4 linked regions of the Homo sapiens genome follow. The protein of the gene in region 1 interacts with the protein of each later gene in a biochemical or structural test. Each region holds a gene or a part of one and is shown on either strand. Other genes may lie near its edges.

Region 1 (4,146 bases):
ATCATACTTTGAAACAGAGGATTTTAATAGGACAGAGAAGCAGCAAAGATAGAAATATCTACTAAAGATATTCTAGACACCTAACCATTTCATTCCCACTTTAAAATTGAAAGAATAAAAACGTGTTAAGGAAATAGCTTAATCCTGGGGAAGGGTGGGCTTTAAAAGCTATAGATCGTAATTTAAGAAAGCAAACAAACATTTCAAGCACACCAAGGGCATTCCAAATACCCATGAGCCACCATCAGCTTAAGCAATAAAACATTACAAATACAACTCAAGCCCTGCATGACTCCTCCCAGATTCCCTTATCCTTCATCTGTCCTCAGAAGTAACCACTATCCTGAATTTGGTGTTTGTGTTTCCCACGTTTAAATATTTTTACATGGGTAGGAATCCATAAAAAATATAGTAACATTATTTTTCATATTTATTTTTACAAATGTCATTGCATATATTTTGATAACACAATACCTGCACTATACACACAGTTCAAAAGTACAAAAGCATCTATGGTGCAACACAATGTCCTCCTTTACCTAGTCCCCTATACTGAGCAACTAACGTAACCAGTCTTGTGTGTATCTTTAAAGAGACATACTCTATATATAAAAGCAGTCACATTTAAGATACAGATTTGCCCCTGCCTTTTATACATAAGTGGTAGGCATATTGAACACACTGTTCTACTTTTTCCTCTTAAAAATACACCTTGGAAATTGTTCTCTAAAATATACAAAGTTCCTCCCTTTTTCTTCCTTAATGTTTGCAAGGTATTTCACTATATGGATAAACCATAACTATTACTATTAGAAAGGTTACTTCGAAAGTTTTGTATTAATATTTACAACAATATGGCAGCGAATAACCCATTATTTCATACACGAGTACATCTATAAAATAATTCCTAGAAGTTGAATTGTTAGGTTAATTTTAATAAATGCTGTCACTCTCTCATGTAGAGGTAGGATACCAATTTATACTCTACCAGCATTGTATGAGTGGTTCTGTAGGTTTCTAAAATTTATATAAATAACAGCAAACTATACATATTCTTATACAACTTGCTTTCGAGGTCTAACCTTATATTTTTAAGATTCATTCACACTGATATATATAGCTCTAGTTCATGTTTATAATTTTTACTTAAAGGAATTTTTAAATAACTTCTACTATGATTCATTCACAAAGTACCTATGTAGCTGAAATTGCAGTTTTACACAGAAATACTTACGAACTTAGGCCAAGCATGGTGGCTCATGCCTGTAATCCCAGCACTGTGGGAGGCTGAGGTGGGTGGATCACCTGAGGTCAGGAGTTCGAGACTAACCTGGCCGACGTGGTGAAACCCCATCTCTACTAAAAATACAAAAAAAAAATAGCTGGGCGTAGTGGTGGGCGCCTATAATCCCAGCCACTTGGGAGGCTGAGGCTGGAGAATCGCTTGAACCCGGGAGGTGGAAGTTGCAGTGAGCTGAGATCGCACCATTGCACTCCAGCCTGGGCGACAAGAGTGGAACTCCATCTCAAAAAAAAAAAAAGAAAAAGAAAAAAAAGAAATACTTGCCAACTTAATAGTTTATATGTATAAATAACTCATTTGCCGAAGATACACCCAGCCTACCAAAGAGACCATCTTCTCTAGAAAAACTAACAAAGACTGCCATTTTAATGATATTACTCTGCTCATCCATGCTTTTTTTGGGCAGAGGGAAGGCCCACAAGGGCACAGAACCTAACATCTTGATAACTAGAAGGAAAAAAAAAAGATGCCTTGGAAACAATAAAGACAATTCAAGCATAATCACAAAATAACCCTAGTTTTCTGTAAACTTTCCTCTCAAAATGCTACCACTAAGTAACCAAACAAATTTTTTGGCCTGTAACAGGAAACAATCACTCCGAACTTCCAGCCTACTCTCCCCGCAAAATTAAATTTCCTATAAGCATGGAATATCATACTTAGACTTTTTCTGCATATCAATATCATATATTTTATTAGATCCCTCTTCATGTTAAATTTACCAATATGTATAAGTAATTTTTAAAGCTTTCTTTACTCCAAATTGTCTAAACATATGGTTAACCCTATTATTTGCAAGAATTCTTGCATAATTAAGGCTGTTGGTGTTTAATTACCAACATCACCACAATAGTGGCCATTTCTGTGTGTTCACTGAGTATCCATGTCCCCCTTTCTCTCTCCTAACAACATCCATTTATGTGTAGGTGTCTACCCTGTCCCCCCACACTATCCAAGTACTTAGAAGATGTCTCCCAGCCCAGCACGGTGGTTCAGGCCTGTAATCCCAGCACTTTGGGAGGCCGAGGCGGGTGGGATCACCTGAGGTCAGGAGTTCAAGACCAGCCTGGCCAACATGATGAAACCCCATCTCTACTAAAAATACAAAAATTAGCAGGACGTGGTGGCACACGTCTGTAATCCCAGCTACTAGGGAAGTTGAGGCAGAAGAATCACTTGAACCTGGGAGGCAGAGGTTGCAATGAGCTGAGATTGCGCCAATGCACTCCAGCCTGGGTGACAAGAGCAAAACTGTCTCCAAAAAAAAAAAAAAGTGTTCCCTGTTCACCACATGCACACTAAAATCTATCTACTGCTTTTTGATTTTTTGATGATGGCCATTCTTGCAGGAGTGAGGTGGTATCACATTGTGGTTCTGATTTGCATTTCCCTGATCATTAGGGATGCTGAGCATTTTTTCATGTTTGCTGGCCATTTGTATATCTTCTTTTGAGAACTGTCTATTCATATCCTTAGCCCACTTTTTGATGGGACTATTTGTTTTTTCTTACTTATTTGTTTGAGTTCATTGTGGATTCTGGATATTAGTACTTTTTCAGATGTATTGATTAGGAAGATTTTCTCCCACTGTGTGGGTTGTCTGTTTACTCTGCTGTTCCTTTTCCTGTGCAAAAGCTCTTCAATTTAATTAGGTCCCATCTATTTATCTTTGTTTTTATTGCATTTGCTTTTGGGTTCTTAGTCATTAAATCCTTGCCTAAGCCAATGTCTAGAAGGGTTTTTCCAATGTTATCTTCTAGAATTTTTATAGTTTCAGGTCTTAGGTTTAAGTCCTTAATCCATCTTGAGTTGATTTTTATATAAGGTTGAGAGATGAGAATCCAGTTTCATTCTCCTACATGTGGCTGGCCAATTATCCCAGCACAATTTGTTGAAAAGGGTGAACAGGGAACACTTCTACACTGCTGGTGGGAATGTAAACTAGCACAGCTGCTATGGAAAACAGTGTAGATATTCCTTAAAGAACTAAAAGTAGAACTACCATTTGATCCAGCAATCTCTTCTGAAAAGAAGTCATTATTCGAAAAAGATACTTGCACATGCATGTTTATAGCAGCACAATTCACAATTGCAAAATCGTGGAACCAATCCAAATGCCCATCACTCAATGTATGGATAAAGAAACTGTGGTGTATACATATATATACACACACACACACACACACACACACAAAATGGAATACTACACAGCCATAAAAAGGAATGAATTAACAGCATTTGCAGTGACTTGGATAAGAGTGGAGACTATTATTCTAAGTGAAGTAACTCAGGAATGGAAAACCAACACAGTATGTTCTAATCACTGATATGTGGGAGCTAAGCTATGAGGACGCAAAGGCATAAGAATGATACAGTGGACTATGGGGACTTGAGGGGGAAGAGTGGGAGAGGGGTGAGGGATAAAAGACTACAAATATGATGCAATGTATACTGCTCAGGTGATGGGTGCACCAAAATCTCACAAATCACCACTAAAGAATTTACTCATGCAACCAAATACCATCTGTACCCCAATAACTTAAAGAAAAATTTAAAAAATAAAACAAATTTTAAAAAAAAGATGTCTCCCACCCACCCACCTCTGTTGCACACACACATCAAAGGGTGGGTCATACTCCTCCAAGGGCAATGCCATCCCCCTTGCTAATGCCTGCTTAGGAATACAAGCATAAGCCAACTGGCACATGGCATTCCTAGCCAGAGGGACTGGATGAGCCAATGAGACTCATAAGAGATATGCTGGCCTTCCCTGCTGGAAGGACTTATCTGTGGAAAGAGAACCACAGATAAGTTCTTTACTAGGCAAAGCTAGATTTTCTATT
Region 2 (3,500 bases), about 93 Mb from region 1:
TTATTAAGGGATTATGCTATGTCAGATTCCAACTTTTATTTTTAAGTTTTGTTTTTTTTTTAATGGATCTACATTGAAACACACCAACAGGAACTTATTATATATAGATCTTCGTATGAATTACTAGGTTTTTCACTTTTAAAACCATGTTTTGTGTTTTTTTGTTGTTTGTTTGTTTTTTGAGACGGAGTCTCACTCTGTCACCCAGGCTGGAGTGCAGTGGTGCGATCTTGGCTGACTGCAAGCTCTGCCTCCCGGGTTCACACCATTCTCCTGCCTCAGCCTCCCGAGTAGCTGGGATTACAGGCGTCTGCCACCACGCCCGGCTAATTTTTTTGTATTTTTTTAGTAGATATGGGGTTTCACCGTGGTAGCCAGGATGGTCTTGATCTCCTGACCTCGTGATCCGCCCGCCTCAGCCTCCCAAAGTGCTGGGATTACAGGCGTGAGCCACTGCGCCCGGCCAACCATGTTTTGTTTTGTTTTGTTTGAAATTTCAGTCAAGGTAAAAACCATGTTTTTATAAAAGCATAGTCTCTGTGGCTGAAGTTGCCTTGACTCTTTCAAGGGGAGTACAGTTAACAGACCATTATCATTAAGGTTCTGTTACATTAAGACAAGCCAAAATTGAATAGGAAGTGTAAAGTTTGGAAGACTCATGTTCTTGATCTTGATTGTCACTACATGGAGGTCGTGGAACATAAACCATGAATCGGTCTTGTTTTTCAGCTTGCAGTTTGACCCAGCACCTCGTAGAGGCGAGCCACATGTTACTCGTCGTACCCCAGACTACTTCCTGTAATGAAATTTTAAACTTGTACAGTATTGCCATGAACCATATATCGACCTAATGGAAATGGGAAGAGCAACAGTAACTCCAAAGTGTCAGAAAATAGTTAACATTCAAAAAACTTGTTTTCACATGGACCAAAAGATGTGCCATATAAAAATACAAAGCCTCTTGTCATCAACAGCCGTGACCACTTTAGAATGAACCAGTTCATTGCATGCTGAAGCGACATTGTTGGTCAAGAAACCAGTTTCTGGCATAGCGCTATTTGTAGTTACTTTTGCTTTCTCTGAGAGACTGCAGATAATAAGATGTAAACATTAACACCTCGTGAATACAATTTAACTTCCATTTAGCTATAGCTTTACTCAGCATGACTGTAGATAAGGATAGCAGCAAACAATCATTGGAGCTTAATGAACATTTTTAAAAATAATTACCAAGGCCTCCCTTCTACTTGTGAGTTTTGAAATTGTTCTTTTTATTTTCAGGGATACCGTTTAATTTAATTATATGATTTGTCTGCACTCAGTTTATTCCCTACTCAAATCTCAGCCCCATGTTGTTCTTTGTTATTGTCAGAACCTGGTGAGTTGTTTTGAACAGAACTGTTTTTTCCCCTTCCTGTAAGACGATGTGACTGCACAAGAGCACTGCAGTGTTTTTCATAATAAACTTGTGAACTAAGAACTGAGAAGGTCAAATTTTAATTGTATCAATGGGCAAGACTGGTGCTGTTTATTAAAAAAGTTAAATCAATTGAGTAAATTTTAGAATTTGTAGACTTGTAGGTAAAATAAAAATCAAGGGCACTACATAACCTCTCTGGTAACTCCTTGACATTCTTCAGATTAACTTCAGGATTTATTTGTATTTCACATATTACAATTTGTCACATTGTTGGTGTGCACTTTGTGGGTTCTTCCTGCATATTAACTTGTTTGTAAGAAAGGAAATCTGTGCTGCTTCAGTAAGACTTAATTGTAAAACCATATAACTTGAGATTTAAGTCTTTGGGTTTTGTTTTAATAAAACAGCATGTTTTCAGGTAGAGCTTAAACTAAATGATGTGTTTACTTAGTGCAGTTTCTGGTTATGAATATTATATTGCTATGTGTATATTATATGGACTCTTTAAAATGATTGACAGATTGGCAAATTCTTAAATCTTTGTACATTGTTGAGTCATATGTTCTTAGAGTTAAATTTGTCTCAGATAAGAAAGTGTTAAAGCATTAGCCTGTGTCAAGTTCTTTGAGTGATACTAGTGAAACCAAATAGAAAACTATTGTTGGATCATGATTTAGTCTTATGTACATTCACCCGAAGACAAAAATGGTACTTAAAGTGGCAGTGTTCAACATTTAATGAGTTTTTCCCCTTTTATCCTTCGAATAGGATTAGATGTTTAAAAAAAAGTTCTTCTGTGGGAACTAATATTTGATATTTTAACCTACCAGAGTAAACAGGAACACTTAATCATACTTGTGAGTGTAGTAAATAAAAGTTTTCTTGCTTTGTGCTGTGTTGAATCTGGAACCAACAGGGAAGTTATAGCATATCCCCTTTCTAAAATGCTTGAGGAACACATACATACCGAATGTCTTTTCTGATCTAATTGATAGTATTTTTAGTGGCTTGTGGAGTTAATTTTCCAAAGCAAAAGGCCATTAGGGTTTCTACATTTCATTTCATTTCATTCTTTTCTTTCACAAGAAATACATTCTCTGTGTGTCTTTTTGTTGCTCTGTCACTCTATGCCCTTTCTCTCCGACTGAACAAATAGCTTATCCATGTGCAGTGGTTTTAATACCCAAACAATCTAGACACCAAGCAGCTATTTTTTCCGGTCCTGTGATATCAGAATTGACCAAGGAATACGTATATTGTAATTGACACGTGGTGGTATCTTCCAGGTACAAATTCTCTAAATTTTGTGGTTAGCAGAATGGGACTTGTGATAAGAATAGCTTGGTTTTAGCATAACTAGGGTTTAAAATAATTGTTTAATTATAGAGACTGACCGGGCTTTGGCCATCTAAACTGGAAAGTGTTAGTACCCTACCTTCTTTTGAAAATGGCTATGGTAAGGAAAATGTGTTAGTAAATTATGTATTTTCTTGAAAAATACATAATTATGGTTGGATGGGAATCACTAAGTTGGGTGTTAACTGATGTCTCAATTAGTAACATTAGGATTTTCATTAATAAACCTAAAAAGCTTTCCCTAAGAACAGGCCTGGCACAGTGGCTCATGCCTGTAATCCCAGCACTTTGGGAGACCAGGGTGGGTGGATCCCTTGAGGTCAGGAGTTGAAGAGCAGCCTGGCCAACATGGCAAAACCCCATCTCTACAAAAAATATGAAAATCAGCCGGGCTTGGTGGCATACCATAGTCCCAGCTACTTGGGAGGCTGAGGTGAGAGGATCGCCTGAGCCCAGGAGATGGAGGTTGCAGTGGGCTGAGATTGTGCCACTGTACTCCAGTCTGGGTGACAGAGCCAGACCCTGTCTCAAAAATAAAGAGGATTCTGAGTTTGTATAGTGAGGGCTTGCAGAAATTTTGAAACTTATTTTGTAAGTTTACAATGAATTTGTACATGATGTGCTCATGTCTTGGGTTGAGTATCCTAGACATGATTTTTTCATTTGCTGCATATTAAACATTTGTTGGTTGTAGTCGGTATTTCTTAAATAGAAGTTTGTCAAT
Region 3 (3,500 bases), on another chromosome or scaffold:
CGCACCCGGCCTCAACCAGCTATCTTAACACAGAGTTGCTACCAACTTCACTCAGTCCTGAGCTTGGATTACCAAATTCTTTCTCTCTCCTCTCCAGACTCCCGGCTAACCACTTCACCCTACACACCATTTCAGCCACAAATTTATCTGTTTCCCAAACAGGCTGCAGGCTTTGAGACAGTTCCTCTGCACAGTCTCCTCCACATGCCCTTGTCCGTGTGCTTCTCTGCCTGAAAAACTCCAGCTCAAATGTCACCGTTCTACAAGAGACGTCTTCCCAGCTTTGCCCAACATTCAGTCCCACTCTCCTCCTTTTTTGAAACACCTTATACCTAACTCCTGAGTCACGCAACTTCTCTCCACCTCCACGGCACCCTCCGAGTCAAAAGTCCAAGGACCCTGCCCTAAATGATCTCCTTATGGCCACTGCGACCCCGTGAGTCTATTCTTCACTGGGCAGAGTATGATCCCAAAAGGCAATGTGATTATGAGGTTCCATGGTCAAATGTTGTACCACCCCCTCTTCCACACTTTTCTCAGAATAAAGACAGTAACATCTAACAAAGGCTGCAAGGTTGGATGGTGCGTCTGTCCCTCCCCTCCAGCTCTGTGCCCAAGACACACAACTCCTTGCTGAGTTCTCCAAAGTGCTCCAAATTCCCTCCAGCCAAAGGTCCACCACACATGCTGTCCCCACTGTCTCATGCTGTAAACACGTCACTTCCACGGGAACGGTTCTCTGACTTCAGATTGTGTTCCCTTCCTTTGGGAAACATCTCTCAGTTTGGAGTGACGTGTACGTAACTGTGATTATCTGATTAGCAAGCTGTCTTCCTCAATGGACCCATAAACTCCTCCGCGAGAGAAACAATGCCTGTTTTCGCTCATCACTCCCTCCTCAGTGCCTGGTACACAGCAGCCACTCGGTAACTATTTGCTGAATGAATGAACAAACGAATGAATGAATGTTCTTGACTATGTTGTTCACACTTGTGTTACAGGAATTACCACCCTAAAACTGGATGCACCCAGCCATTAGCCTGCTTCTCTCCCTCACTACCCAGCGAACCTCTAAAGCACAGGAATTCTCTCTTCAGCTCTATACTCCTAACGTCCGGCCACCAAAATCTGTGAACAATCACAAAAGATATAAAGTCCTTCATATGTGGTTCTGAAAAAAGTGTCTAGTATTCTACAAATTAATTCTAAACAAAATAGTAAACCACACTTGGAAGCCCCGATTTTGCATTCTATTACAAGTCAGAAGTACTTAAATGTGGTTATCTCTCAGGAGTGGGACCTGAGTTGGGAAGTGTTTTGTTTTTTGCCATTGCAGTACTCTGATGAAACAAAGTGACAGAAGACAAAAACATGATTTTGAAGAAGATGGAGAAAAATTCAGGTGAATTACCCAGTTTCTCATTATTCCCTAGGGCAGGTGACTTACCAATCTCCAACTAATAAAAAGTTTGTCCTCTCATAAATCTAGTGCAAAGGCAATGGATGGACAAGAATCTGAATGTGAATCAGACCTCCTTTTTTGTTTTTTGAGATGGAGTTTCACTCTTTCGTCCAGGCTGGAGTGAAGTGGCGTGATCTTGTCTCACAGCAACCTCTGCCCCCACGGGTTCAAGCTATTCTCCTGCCTCAGCCTTCGGAGCAGCTGGGATTAAAGGTGCCCGCCACCACACTCGGCTAATTTTTGTATTTTTAGCAGAGATGAGGTTTTACCATGTTGGCCAGGATGGTCTCAAACTCCTGACCTCAGGTGATCCACCCACCTCGACCTCCCAAAGTGCTGGGATTACACGCGTGAGCCACCACGCCCAGCCAGACCTCTTTTTACACTATGAACACCGGACAGCATGACTACTACTAAGGGGGTGGAAGTCTTCAAAATATTTCTTATCTTTTCTTTTTTGACGTAAGAGTCTCGCTCTGTCACCCAAGCTGAAGTGCAGTGGCACAATCTCGACTCACTACAATGTCCACCTCCCAGGTTCAAGCGATCCTCCCACCTCAACCTCCCAAGTAGGTGGGACTACAGGAGAGCACCACCATGCCCAGTGAATTTTTGTATTTTTGTAGAGAAAGAGTTTTGCTACGTTGCCCAGGCTGGTCCCAAACTCCTGAGCTTGAGTGATTCGCCTGCCTCAGCCTCCCAAAGTGCTGGGATTACAGGCGTGAGTCACTCACTGCACCTGGCCCAAAATATTTCTTAAGAAAAAAAAAAATTGTTTGGACAACATGTTATAAGTTGTGGCAGCACTTCCACAATCCCCTGCACACTGGATCCTGATAAGTCACTTCAATCTCCAGAATATCTGCTTCATTCCCTGGCAAAATTAGGTAAACCTAAGAAAACTGACTTCAGTGGATGTTTTCAATAATTTTGAAAACAAGGTTTGCTCAATAAAGTTCAGTGACTAGATACAACAGACCATATTATGAAACAACGGAACAACAACAACAAAATACTCCAGTGGAAAAAAGCATAGAAGACACACACCAAACTGACGATTAAGGATCAGAGAGGAAGGGAATGACTTCTACTTTTCACTTTAAATACGTCTGTGCTGTTTTCGTGTCTTAAAAATAGCATGTCTTTATACTAGAAAATAAAATAAACGACTTTATTAAAATGTACCCCACACAAACTTTAGTGAATAGTAACATATTATAGTAACAAATTTTGTAATTAGTAACATTAAAGTTTCTAAATGCACATTTCATTCATTCATTCTGTAAATGTTTATGGAGGAACTACTAAGGGGAAGTCACAGTGTGAAAGATTATGCCTTCATCAGTCTCTTCCAGAAAACCAGTCTGGCAAAGTAGAAAAAGCAAAGGATTTAGAAGTCAAAACACCTGCTTTTAAAAGGTCCTGATGGCCAGCAGCCATTTGACCTCAAGCCACAACCTCTCTGGGTCTTATCTTACTCATCTGTAAAATGGTTATAATAATACAGGACAGAGTTGCTGTAAAGGCTCAAACAAGCTAAGGCACTTTCTAAACTATGCAGTTTATAGAGTTTATAGGCTTCAAATGATGACTACTACAATGCTTAGTATCTCGTAATAAATATGTTTCTCCTTCTCCAATGATCAGATCTACCCAGAAAGCCTACTTCAGGTCTTGAATAAATATATATATAGTCTTGGCCCGGCGCGGTGGCTCACGCCTGTAATCCCAGCACTCTGGGAGGCCGAGGTGGGCAGATCCCGAGGTCAGGAGATGGAGACCATCCTGGCTAACACCGTGAAACCCCGTCTCTACTAAAAATACAAAAAATTAGCTGGGCGTGGTGGCGCACACCTGTATTCCCAGCTACTCCGGAGGCTGAGGCAGGAGAATGGCGTGAACCCGGGAGGCGGAGCTTGCAGTGAGCCGAGATTGCGCCACTGCACTCCAGCCTGGGTGACAGAGGAAGACTTCGTCTCAAAAAATATATATATATAAAAATATATATAAATATAAAAATATAAATAAATATAAATAC
Region 4 (3,500 bases), on another chromosome or scaffold:
AGTATAGAAGAAATTACTTAATTAGGGATAAGGAGACCTGGCTACTCATCCCCTGTGCCACCTTAGGTAGGTCACAATCCTTCTGGGCCCCAGTAAGCTCATCAGTACAATAAATAACACTGCTTGTTTGAAAGCAGGATATCAGTCTATAGGATTTCTTAAGGTCCAATTTGGTTTTAAGACTTACATTTTTATTAAAACAATCTCAAAAAACATTTGCCAATCTATGGGAAAAACCAATAATCATCCAAATACTTTCTTAGACAGAACACAGAAATCAATACAGTCTTACATTGTAAAGAAAAAGAGGACAGGGCTGACTAGGTGTAACTTTATAGAATCAACTGCAATCTGCCATTCTTTTATATCTTGATCTGAATTTCTTAACTTGTTCATTATTATTTTGGTAAATATTTTAAAATATGGATTCCTCACTTCCCTTCTTCCAAAGTGGCCAATCCGTACAACTCAGAACAAACATTCATATTTGCAGAAGACTCCCTCTCATTCCTCCTTTGGCCTGCTCATGACCTACAAACCCAAACCTCCAAGGACAGTTTTGATCAAGGTCATACAGAACTCCTAACTCAAGAAGAGGGCTGCTGCTGATCACACAGCTGCGCTTTGCTGCTTAACTGATCGAGTTCTTTAGGACTTCATCTGGATCTGTTCAGTTCTTACCCAACAGTTTTGTGTGTCTCCATAAGGATGGTTCCATTTGGTCCTGGGACAGGCATGGAATTGTAGCGAATGCTGACTTGTGACTTACGCAGCAGGCTCTCTCGGGCTATCTTGAGTCCTTCATAGAACATTGCTAGTAAAAACACTGCCACAAAAGCTCCAGCCATTTCTAAGTATGGAAGGAAAATATGGAGGTACTGTCAAACATGTGCAAAATCATTAGCCAATGTGCTGTCCAGCTAGAAAGACACATAGAAAAAATGCTACTCTCAGCTTTTGAAGACATTATATTTTTACCTCTTCTCTTGCTCAGATAGGAGAACGGCTAAGATGGTGTAACTGAAAACTATTGCCTCTGCCAAGAACATATTTACTTTCTGATTAAGATAAGAAAAATAATCAGAACAACAATAACCTTTTGGTCAGACTGCTTGATATCATTAAATTAGGTTTGTTACACTGAAACACACAATGTAGAATATGGAACAGGGAATAAAACAATTTAGTTTCATCAGTGGCTGACTACATTTCCTGAATAGGCATTTCAATTCTAAGTCTTTCACACTGTGAAGTGTTGGTAATGATATAAATGTATTCAAACTGCTAATTTAACACATTACCTGAACTAAATGCTCTCCTTCTTCCCAAAACAAATTGATTTTATGGCTCCAAACAGACATCTGGTACCTAAGGCAGTCCAACTGACTATTGAGTTTGCGCAAGTTAAATTTAAAGTATACCATACAACATAATAGACACAAACAGATGGGTAATCATCTACCTCAAAACTAGGAGTGTCTAAGATGGGCCGTGCCAAGAATCAGGAAGGATGTGGGCCATAGTTTGGTAGACTAAAAGAACACTGGTCTAGGTAGCTCTAGAAGGTCTGGGTCCTTGTCCTAGCTCTGACATATTAACTCTATGATTGATGGCGAGTCATTTCACAATTTGTGGCACTTAATTTATTGTAAAATTGAAGTATTAGAACAATAGTTTTAAACTTATTTTGTGGTACTTAATTTGAGTTAGTCTTATGTCCAGGACTAATAACTTATCAAATAAGTAAACACTCTGAGGCCGGGCATGGTGGCTCATGCCTGTAATCCCAGCACTTTGGGAGGCTGAGGTGGGTGGATCACTTGAGGTGAGGAGTTCGAGACCAGCCTGGCAAACATGGCAAAACCCCGTCTCTATTAAAAATACAAAAATTAGCCAGGCATGGCGGTAGGTGCCTGTTTAACTCCAGCTACTCAGGAGGCTGAGGCAGGAGAATCGCTTGAACCTGGGAGGCAGAGATTGCAGTGAGCCAAGATAGCTGCCATTGCACTCCAGCCTGGGTGACAAGAGTGAAACTCCGTCTCAAAAAAAAAAAAAAAAAAAAAAATTAAACACTCTGGAAAAGAATGAAAGAAAATGGATTGCAAAAGATTCTATCTGGTATCTAAATTATTTTTTAGAGCTCCAAAACATACATGTTAGTTAACAGAGGTTTACCAGAGGACCAAAAAAGTACTGTGTTTCCTACCTTCTAGGTAGGAAATAGGAACCAAGATGGTTATGCATCATTACCATGTTGACTTAGTAATTAGGACAGAAAGAGGTGCTGGACTTCCAAATTATTTGTCACTGTCTCTCATGTGACTATCACCTTCCAACACTACCTAATGGCTTACTCACCTCCAGCTGTATTGATCACCAAACCGGAAAACAGTAGTTCCACATTCTTAAAGCCAAAGTAGAAGGTCATAGGCTGCCAGAAAACCAAAACAAGTCAGTTAGAGATGAATGAAAATTCTAAATGAGAATTTGGGGCAAAGAAGCTTAGAACATTTAAAAGTAGAAGATCTGGATAATAAGAGACATTCACGTGAGTGGGAGGCTTTTGCCCTCATGTTAGCGTTACCACCACAGGCACCGAGCATGAGTATTCTACTAGGCCCCCACCATCAACTTTTCTCCTGGGCCCCCACCATCAACTTTTATCTTTTTTTTTTTTTTTTTTGATACGGATTCTCGCTCTGTAGCCCAGGCTGGAATGCAGTGGCGAGATCTCGGCTCACTACAACCTCCACCTCCTGGGTTCAAGCGATTCTCCTGCCTCAGCCTCCCAAGTAGCTGGGACTACAGGCGAATGCCATCATGCCCAGCTAATTTTTTGTATTTTTAGTAGAGATGGGGTTTCACCGTGTTAGCTAGGATGGTCTCGATCTCCTGACCTTGTGATCCACCTGCCTTGGCCTCCCAAAGTGTTGGGATTACAGGCATGAGCCACTGTGCCTGGCCAACTTTTGTCTTTTTCTCTTTTCCACCCAAGGCATAAAGACCAGAACCCCTAATTCAGAAAAGAGTCGATTTCAGAAGGGACCACCAAAGAAAGAAGCCTAAAATCTTGGTTCTGGTGTGACTCTGTAAGTAGCTTGCCACATAATCTGGAGCAAATGACTTGACTTGCTTGGGTCTGCTTTAGTTATCCTCACTGGTAAACTGACCTTTAAAGATAATAAGCTTCCAGTACTAAAATTCCATTATTTCTATTACCCAAGTGGGTGGGAAAGGGCCTGCATTGCCCCTCCTATGGCACTCACCATCATCATCATGCTGCTGTCTCCTCCACCATGGGAGTGTGAGGCTGAAGTGGTTGGGTGATGGTGAGAAGGTTGCATGGTACTGTTGGAGTCCATATAGCTCATCCCCATATGGTGGGAATGATCCATTTTTTCCAGGAAAAGTTGAGAGTCAGCAGAAGATTCTTTTAAGAGAAAGAATTATATATAATAATTTAAGGATATAAAAATCTTATCTCTTTTTTTTATTTTTAG

What was found. Proteins that work in one complex are often made in the same cells at the same time.
Region 2: of the proteins of PRKAA1 (region 1) and PPP2CA, one has a biochemical effect on the other in vitro, tested with the Homo sapiens proteins (one study listed by BioGRID).
Region 3: the proteins of PRKAA1 (region 1) and USP10 form a complex in vitro, tested with the Homo sapiens proteins (one study listed by BioGRID).
Region 4: of the proteins of PRKAA1 (region 1) and SLC31A1, one has a biochemical effect on the other in vitro, tested with the Homo sapiens proteins (one study listed by BioGRID).

What each region holds. Positions count from the first base shown.
Region 1 is NC_000005.10:40,791,540-40,795,685, forward strand, and holds part of PRKAA1 (5'-AMP-activated protein kinase catalytic subunit alpha-1), read right to left. Parts: intron 1-4,146. UniProt on the Homo sapiens protein: Catalytic subunit of AMP-activated protein kinase (AMPK), an energy sensor protein kinase that plays a key role in regulating cellular energy metabolism.
Region 2 is NC_000005.10:134,195,074-134,198,573, reverse strand, and holds part of PPP2CA (serine/threonine-protein phosphatase 2A catalytic subunit alpha isoform), read left to right. Parts: intron 1-729; coding exon 730-802; 3' UTR 803-3,500. UniProt on the Homo sapiens protein: Catalytic subunit of protein phosphatase 2A (PP2A), a serine/threonine phosphatase involved in the regulation of a wide variety of enzymes, signal transduction pathways, and cellular events.
Region 3 is NC_000016.10:84,706,500-84,709,999, reverse strand, and holds part of USP10 (ubiquitin carboxyl-terminal hydrolase 10), read right to left. Parts: intron 1-3,500. UniProt on the Homo sapiens protein: Hydrolase that can remove conjugated ubiquitin from target proteins such as p53/TP53, RPS2/us5, RPS3/us3, RPS10/eS10, BECN1, SNX3 and CFTR.
Region 4 is NC_000009.12:113,256,044-113,259,543, reverse strand, and holds part of SLC31A1 (high affinity copper uptake protein 1), read right to left. Parts: intron 3,431-3,500; 5' UTR 3,396-3,430; coding exon 3,267-3,395; intron 3,090-3,266; exon of another isoform or gene 2,941-3,089; intron 2,432-2,940; coding exon 2,359-2,431; intron 851-2,358; coding exon 682-850; intron 1-681.